Homo sapiens: one gene and its partner. The protein of the gene in region 1 purifies or fractionates together with the protein of each later gene. This does not show direct contact. Each region holds a gene or a part of one and is shown in the gene's direction. Other genes may lie near its edges.

Evidence for each region.
Region 2: the proteins of SPRR2A (region 1) and ARL3 purify together in Homo sapiens (affinity purification with mass spectrometry; one large-scale study listed by BioGRID and IntAct). This does not show direct contact.

What each region holds. Positions count from the first base shown.
Region 1 is NC_000001.11:153,055,365-153,058,911, reverse strand, and holds SPRR2A (small proline-rich protein 2A), read left to right. Parts: upstream 1-1,399; 5' UTR 1,400-1,441; intron 1,442-2,157; 5' UTR 2,158-2,176; coding exon 2,177-2,395; 3' UTR 2,396-2,792; downstream 2,793-3,547. UniProt on the Homo sapiens protein: Gut bactericidal protein that selectively kills Gram-positive bacteria by binding to negatively charged lipids on bacterial membranes, leading to bacterial membrane permeabilization and disruption.
Region 2 is NC_000010.11:102,704,263-102,708,088, reverse strand, and holds part of ARL3 (ADP-ribosylation factor-like protein 3), read left to right. Parts: intron 1-2,599; coding exon 2,600-2,743; intron 2,744-3,826. UniProt on the Homo sapiens protein: Small GTP-binding protein which cycles between an inactive GDP-bound and an active GTP-bound form, and the rate of cycling is regulated by guanine nucleotide exchange factors (GEF) and GTPase-activating proteins (GAP).

The sequences.
Region 1 (3,547 bases):
TATTTAGAAAACCTTATGATTGTAAAAGAGCTTAAAAAAGATGTGAAAGAACAATCACTAAATGCATTGACAACATATGTGTTAAGTGAACAATATGTACCAAAATGGACAGATGAGAGGTGTACATTGGGGTGTGAGTTGATAATCCAGCAGACTGTGGGACTAGAGGGTCTACGGAAAAAACAAAGGAAGAACATACAAACAAATTTTAAAACACTGTCTTTCAAACACCTAAAACCTGTTTGGAAATAGAGAGCAAGAATACATATTGGATTACACTTAGCTTTTATTTTCCTCTAGATTTCAGACTTTAAGTGCTCTGAACTTCTGCACTCTGCAAACCTACTTCTAATTATTTACATATGATAACATGAGTCTATGCAGCTTGTTCTCTATAGGATATTCACAGGACACTACAGAATGTTTTGGGAGATTATGTAATATTTAAAATATTCAAATTATACTAAAAATGTATGTAAAATGTATTGAACATAGGCAAGTTTCAATACATAGATTTTGAGTGAATGCTTGCAACTTTGGTTCCATTCTCTCTACTTCCTTAAGGTGGTGTCCAAGAGTACATTTTTATAAATAAAAAGTTATAGTACACATCCCTAAGGGCAGCAAGTAGAAAACGTGCTAGGGAGACTCGATCTCACTTTGGAATCTATCCTGGGAGACAAATGCCTCTACAAATGGATTAGAGAAGACAGTTTTAAAGAGGAAGATAATACAGGTAAAATCTGGGGTTTTATGAGAGAAAGAAAGAGGTAGAAGAAAAAATTTCAAGCTCGAACAGGGTCATCAGGTGGCACAATGCGGTCAATGCCTGCAAACTCAGGGGTAAGTATTATTCTCCCTGTTTACAGTTCCGTGGAGGAGAAGTGACTTGCCTGTGGTCATACAACAGAGCAAAGAAAAGGCTTGAGCTAGAACTCAGGCCTTTGTTAGGTCTCCCCTTCCTCCTAGCACATTGGCAAATTGCATGAGGAAAGTAGAGGTACAGTTGAGTTCATGTACAACAATAAGGCATTCAGGTAAAGTGAATGAGGGCAGAAGTTTTATGATTTAGGGAAGGTGTAAGACAGGAAAATATCTTTGTTCCCAATTAAGAAAGAGATCCCTTGACCATCAGTTAGAGATTCCCCCAAGTCCCTCTTTGCCATAAGTCACTGAAACTGAGATCCAAGGCATGGCTTCTGTGAGTCAGGAGAGCTTAACCCAGAGGAGAGATTTCAGAACAGGATATTTCCTATTTTGAGTATCCTGCTCATGCCAGTCATGGATAAATTTGCATCTGGCTTAAGAAATTACTGGATCAGCATTGTTTTGGGTAGTTTCACTTCCTGCTGGGTGGGGTAGCAGGCTCTATAAAGAGATCCTCTGCTGCACGACTCTTAAACCCCTGGTACCTGAGCACTGATCTGCCTTGGAGAACCTGGTGAGTCGGCTTCCTTGAGTTCCTCTGTTCTTTGTGCCCTGAAATGTTGAGTTTAATCTGAATATGGCAAGTTTGGTGGATCCAATCCTATGAAAATTGACTTGATGCTACTTAGTGGATGAAAATTTAAGATTAGAGCACAATTATATGCTATTTTAGCTTTCTTTTGTTATACAGGTAGGTATCCATATGGACAGAGAAGTTAAGGGGTAACCTTTGATATGAAGAAGAAAAAAGAACAAAGTATTTTTCTTTATTCTCTGTCTTTCTAGTGTCCTTTACAAAGGTTTGTGTCTTAGCAGGTGTGAAAGACTACAATTCTCCCTGAGCAGCCCTTTGCTCTATGCCCAAGTCAGCCCACTTGGACTTTATAACAGATAATGATGATAGGAATAGCATATTAGATTGCCCAGGGTGTCTGAACTTGTGACTGCCTTTCTTGAATTGGTTATTTTCAGGGAAATAAGATGCTTGATTCTTTATAACAGAGATAATTTATTTGGAAAAATTGTATGAGAAAACACAGGATTTCCTAGGGACAATGAAGCAATTTGTTAAAGTGGAAGGGAGAAACCAGAAAGTCTTGAAAAGGTAATTAAGAATTTAAATAATTTCTTGGAGATTGGAGAAATAATATGCCATGGTATTACACAAGCTTTGGCTTCTCTCTCTGGAGGATTCCCTTCCCACGAACACTGTTGTATCATTTCTTTCAGATCCTGAGACTCCAGCAGGATGTCTTATCAACAGCAGCAGTGCAAGCAGCCCTGCCAGCCACCTCCTGTGTGCCCCACGCCAAAGTGCCCAGAGCCATGTCCACCCCCGAAGTGCCCTGAGCCCTGCCCACCACCAAAGTGTCCACAGCCCTGCCCACCTCAGCAGTGCCAGCAGAAATATCCTCCTGTGACACCTTCCCCACCCTGCCAGTCAAAGTATCCACCGAAGAGCAAGTAACAGCTTCAGAATTCATCAGGACCAAGAAAGGATAAGGATATTTGGCTCACCTCGTTCCACAGCTCCACCTTCATCTTCTCATCAAAGCCTACCATGGATACACAGGGAGCTTCTTTCTCCTTAGCCAGTAATCTGCCCATGATGATCCCTGACAGCAAAAAGTTTCTTTTCTGAGGCTGCCATACTGCCACTGTCCAGGTGGAGACTGAGCAAAGGAAGTCCTGGGCTGTGCCAGCTCCCAGAGCTTCGGAAGAAAGAGCAGCAGCTCTCTCCCTGGGAACCATCAGAGAATTCTGTTGATGTGTTCTGTGTCTGTCTGTCACCTGGTCACGAGCTTCTACCACCTTTGCAATTGTCACTTATCTTTCACTCCCTGAATAAAGTATCTATGCATATATATTTGTGAATGGATCTTTTGTTTATTTTCAAATCTGCTTTATTAGCAATAGTATGTAATCTTTTGGATTTATTTCAATCTTTCTTTGATTCACAGCAGGATCTCACAATTGGAGTCATACCAAAGATTATTTCTGTATCATTTTAAACCCCTTTTATTTTCCCTAATTAGCATTTGATTGATTTGAGGAGGATATTATTCAACTTCTCTGAATTGACAACTTCTCTTTACTGCAAAGTGAGCAAAATAACATTTACATTACAAACTAGTCTAAGGCATAAAATTTGATTACTATCTGATATTTGGTTGGCACAATGCCTGACACGTAATTAGCTGTCATTTGATAGAGTTGTATTCGCAGCAACATATTATCATTGTTTTCACCATCACCATCCTCCTCCTCCTCCTCCTCATCATCATCACTCCCCACTACAACCACTACCATATTTGTTCCAGCAAGAGAGTGGCTTGGGTGTAACTAACATAGGAAATAAGAAGACTCTCTAATGTTATTTGTATTGATTCATAATACTTGTACACATTTACTGCATACATGTGATTTTTTACATGAATAGAATGTGTAATGATCAAGTCAGGATATCAGGAAATTTAGGGCATTCATCCCCTGCAGCATTTATCATTGTTCTTTATTGGGAACATTTTAATTCTAGCTATTTTGAAGAACACAGTACATTGTTGTATACCGTAGTCACCTTCCTCTGCTATCAAATATTAAAACTTACTCATTTTATGTA
Region 2 (3,826 bases), on another chromosome or scaffold:
TACAAAACTTAGTGGGGCGTGGTGGTGTGAGCCGGTAGTCCCAGCTACTGGAGAGGCTGAGGTGGGAGGATCGCTTGAGCCCAGGGAGTCGAAGCTGCAGTTAGCCGTGTTCACGCCACTACATTCCAGCCTAGGCCACAGAGGAAGACCCTGTCCCCCCAAAAAAAAGAAAAAGGAAAAAAAAGTCTGGCCTTTTAAAAAGCCAGACTTCTGTTTGTTTCCAATCTATTCAATCTCTGTCCCCCAAATCTTTTGGCATAGAATTTGTCTAGCTTAGACTAAACCTTCCATCTTACTGCTGGAAAAAATTGAGGCATAGAAAGGTTAATGTGGTCCTTAGCAAGTCAGTACAGATACAGTACTAGAAGTGGTAAACAAAGAGTCTCTGAGGCAGAAAGGAATTCTTAATAATTATGCATATTTGCGTATGATTGTCCAAAGATGCAGTTGTTGAGAATTATTTCTCAGAAGTATCCTTTGATCTTAGTGAACAAACTGGTTTGAATTATTGCCTGGTACAATGTGAATAACAAATACAACCATTTTGCATAATTCTAAGACTCAGTTTGAAGGAATTTCTTCTTGGGCTGGGAGATTAAATTATATGCCCTTTAAACTCTGGGATTCTTTGACTCTTGTTCTAGCCATGTGTCGTTAGAACAAGATTATCAGCTATAGCACAGAACAAATAACTTTCCTATAAAGATGTTCTTATGTTCTTAACTAAAAATCAACATGGTTTATTTATTTTTTCTTTGTTTTCTTTTTCTTTTTTCTTTTTTTTTCTTTTTGAGACAGAGTCTCACTCTGTCACCCAGGCTGGAGTGCAGTGGTACAAATACAGCTTACTGCAATCTCGACCTCCCAGGCTCTAGCAATTCTCTCACCTCAGCTTCCTGAGTAGCTGGGACCACAGGCCTGCGCCACCATGCCTGGCTTATTTGTTTTTTATTTTTTGTAGGGACAGGGTCTCACTATGTTGCCAGGGCTGGTCTTGAACTCCTGGGCTCAAGCAGCCCTCCTGCCTTGGCCTCCCAAAGTGCTGGGATTATAGGCGTGAGCCACCATGCCCAGCAACATGCTTTATATTTCTATCCATAAAAAATAATAAATAATGGCCAGGAGAGGTGGCTCATGGCCTGTAATCCCAGCACTTTGGGAGGCCAAGGTGGGCTGATCGCTGGAGGCCAGGAGTTCAAGACCAGCCTGGCTAACATGGCGAAACCCCATCTCTACTAAAAATATAAAAATTAGCTAGGCATGGTGGCACATGCCTGTAATACCAGCTACTCTGGAGGCTGAGGCACAAGAATTGCTTGAACCCAGGAGACAGAGGTTGTAGTTGAGCCGAGATTGCACCACTGCACTCCAGCCTGGGTGACAGAGGGAAATATTAGATTAACAGTAAAAAATTCCTTGGTTAATTTTGGTGGGTTTTTGTTTTGTTTTGTTTTGTTTTGCTTCATGGATGCCTTTTATGATTTCTTAACTTCTCTGTTGTACCAAATTTTTCATCTAAAAAACACAGATTATCTATACCATGCACCTATCCTGTAGGGTCTTGTGAAAGATGATAGTAGAACATTTTGAATGAAGAAGTCTTGAAGATGTGCTGAAATAGATAAAATCTTTTTTTTTGAGACGGAGTCTTGCTCTGTCACCCAGGCTGGAGTGCAGTGTGCAATATCGGCTCACTGCAACCTCCGCCTCCCAGGTTCAAGCGATTCTCCTGCCTCAGCATTTCGAGTAGGTGGGACTACAAAGCGCCTGCCACCACGCCCGACTAATTTTTTATATTTTTTGTAGAGACAGGGTTTCACCGTGTTAGCCAGGATGGTCTCGATCTCCTGACCTCGTGATCCGCCCACCTTGGCCTCCCAAAGTGCTGGGATTACAGATGTGAGCCACCGTGCCCGGCGATAAAATCTTTTTTAAAAATTTTTTCCTTTTAATTTTTGTGGGTCCATGGTGTTATATATTTATAGGGTACATGAGATGTTTTGATACAGGCATGCAATGTGAAATGATGAAATAGATAAAATCATTAACAGGAAGCCCAACTATAATTTTATATAGCCTTTTTATATATTTTTGTATAACACCTTAAAATCGTGTGTTAACTTGGGTGTGTCATCCTATTTAATTCCACAAGTGTTATCTAGTGTCTGTTTGATAAGTGCCAGGCATTATGGGACAAGTATAGCCCTTACCACGAGAAACTTTAGTAAAGGAGAAAAATACAAACATCAGTTACCTAGTTTGATATGATGAATGTTCTGCTCTAAGTGTATGTAAAGGGCTTTAGGAACACAGATGGGGTAGAGTTCACACTCCCAGGAGATTTGGGGTGACTGCTAAGCTAGATTGATTGGAGGAGCAGAAATAAGCCCTGCTACTTATTAAGTTGCTGAATTTACTGTAGCACTTCTACCGAAACTTGGAAAGAGGAAGCAAATGGAATAAGTGGCATTAGAATGAAAAATAATAACATAAGCTCTCCATAACCAATAACTTTTTTCAAGGAGAAGTTATTCTCATATCCAGTTAATATCACAGTCAGTGCCCCCAGAGTAATCTGTCTCCTTTGTGGTTGTTGAAGGGCTTGCTCTCAATTTTGCGCAAGTTGAAAAGTGCACCAGACCAGGAGGTGAGAATACTTCTCCTGGGCTTGGATAATGCTGGCAAGACCACTCTTCTGAAGCAGCTTGCATCTGAAGACATCAGCCACATCACACCTACACAGGTGAGCACTGCCTTGGCTCCAGATGCCGTGTGACACAGGAAGACGATAATAGCAATGTGAAAGACAAAATGGGAAATACAGTTTTGTCCACTTCCAAGTTTTGTCTCTGAGAAAAGTCTATACAATCTAAAGATAACCAGATTTCAAAAATATGTAAGAGATTCCATTCTCATGAGGTATTTAGAGTAGTCAGATTCATAGAGACAGAATGCAGAATGGTGGTTACTGGAGCTGGGGAGGGGGAATGGGGAGTTATTGTTTAACGGGTACAGTGAGTCAGTTTTGCAAGATGGAAAGAGTTCTGTGGGTAACGGCCCACAGTGTGAATGTATTTAATGCCATGGAACTGTACACTTTAAAATGGCTGAAATGGTACGTTTTATGTTATAACGTTAAAATGTGTACGCAGACACACTTCACAGTACCCACTTCATCAGGCCACCCCACTGCAGCATCTGCATCCCACTGGGCTTCAGCCTCCACACAGCACCTTTCAGCACATGCACCCCTCTTCCGTCTCTGCCCCACCTTCCCCACCCGCACATGTCCTCAGCAGCTGCATATTGTACGTGTTATGTTACAATTTAAAATATATGTATACATATATACACATGTGTGTGTTTGTGTGTATATAGACAAATCCAGCAGATCTGAGTACCTATATTCTTTTTATTTTTATTTTATTTCTTTAAATTATTTATTTTTTGAGACACAGTCTTGCTTTGTCACACAGGCTGAAGTGTGGTAGTGCAATCTTGGCTCACTGCAACCTCCGCCTCCCAGGTTCAAGCGATTCTTGGACCTCAGCCTCCCTAGTAGCTGGGATTACAGGCGCACACCGCCATGGCCCGCTAATTTTTGTATTTTTTTGTAGAGCCAGGGTTTTGCCATGTTGGCCAGGCTGGTCTCAAACTCCAGACCTCAATGATCCACCCACCCCAGCCTCCCAAAGTGCTGGGATTACAGGTGTGAGCCACCACACCCAGCCTATTCTTTTTTAAAAAATAGCTTTATCTTCTCTGATTATGAAAGTAGTGCATGTAGAAAACACAGAGAAAGTATAAAGGAGAAAACTCTGAGAAA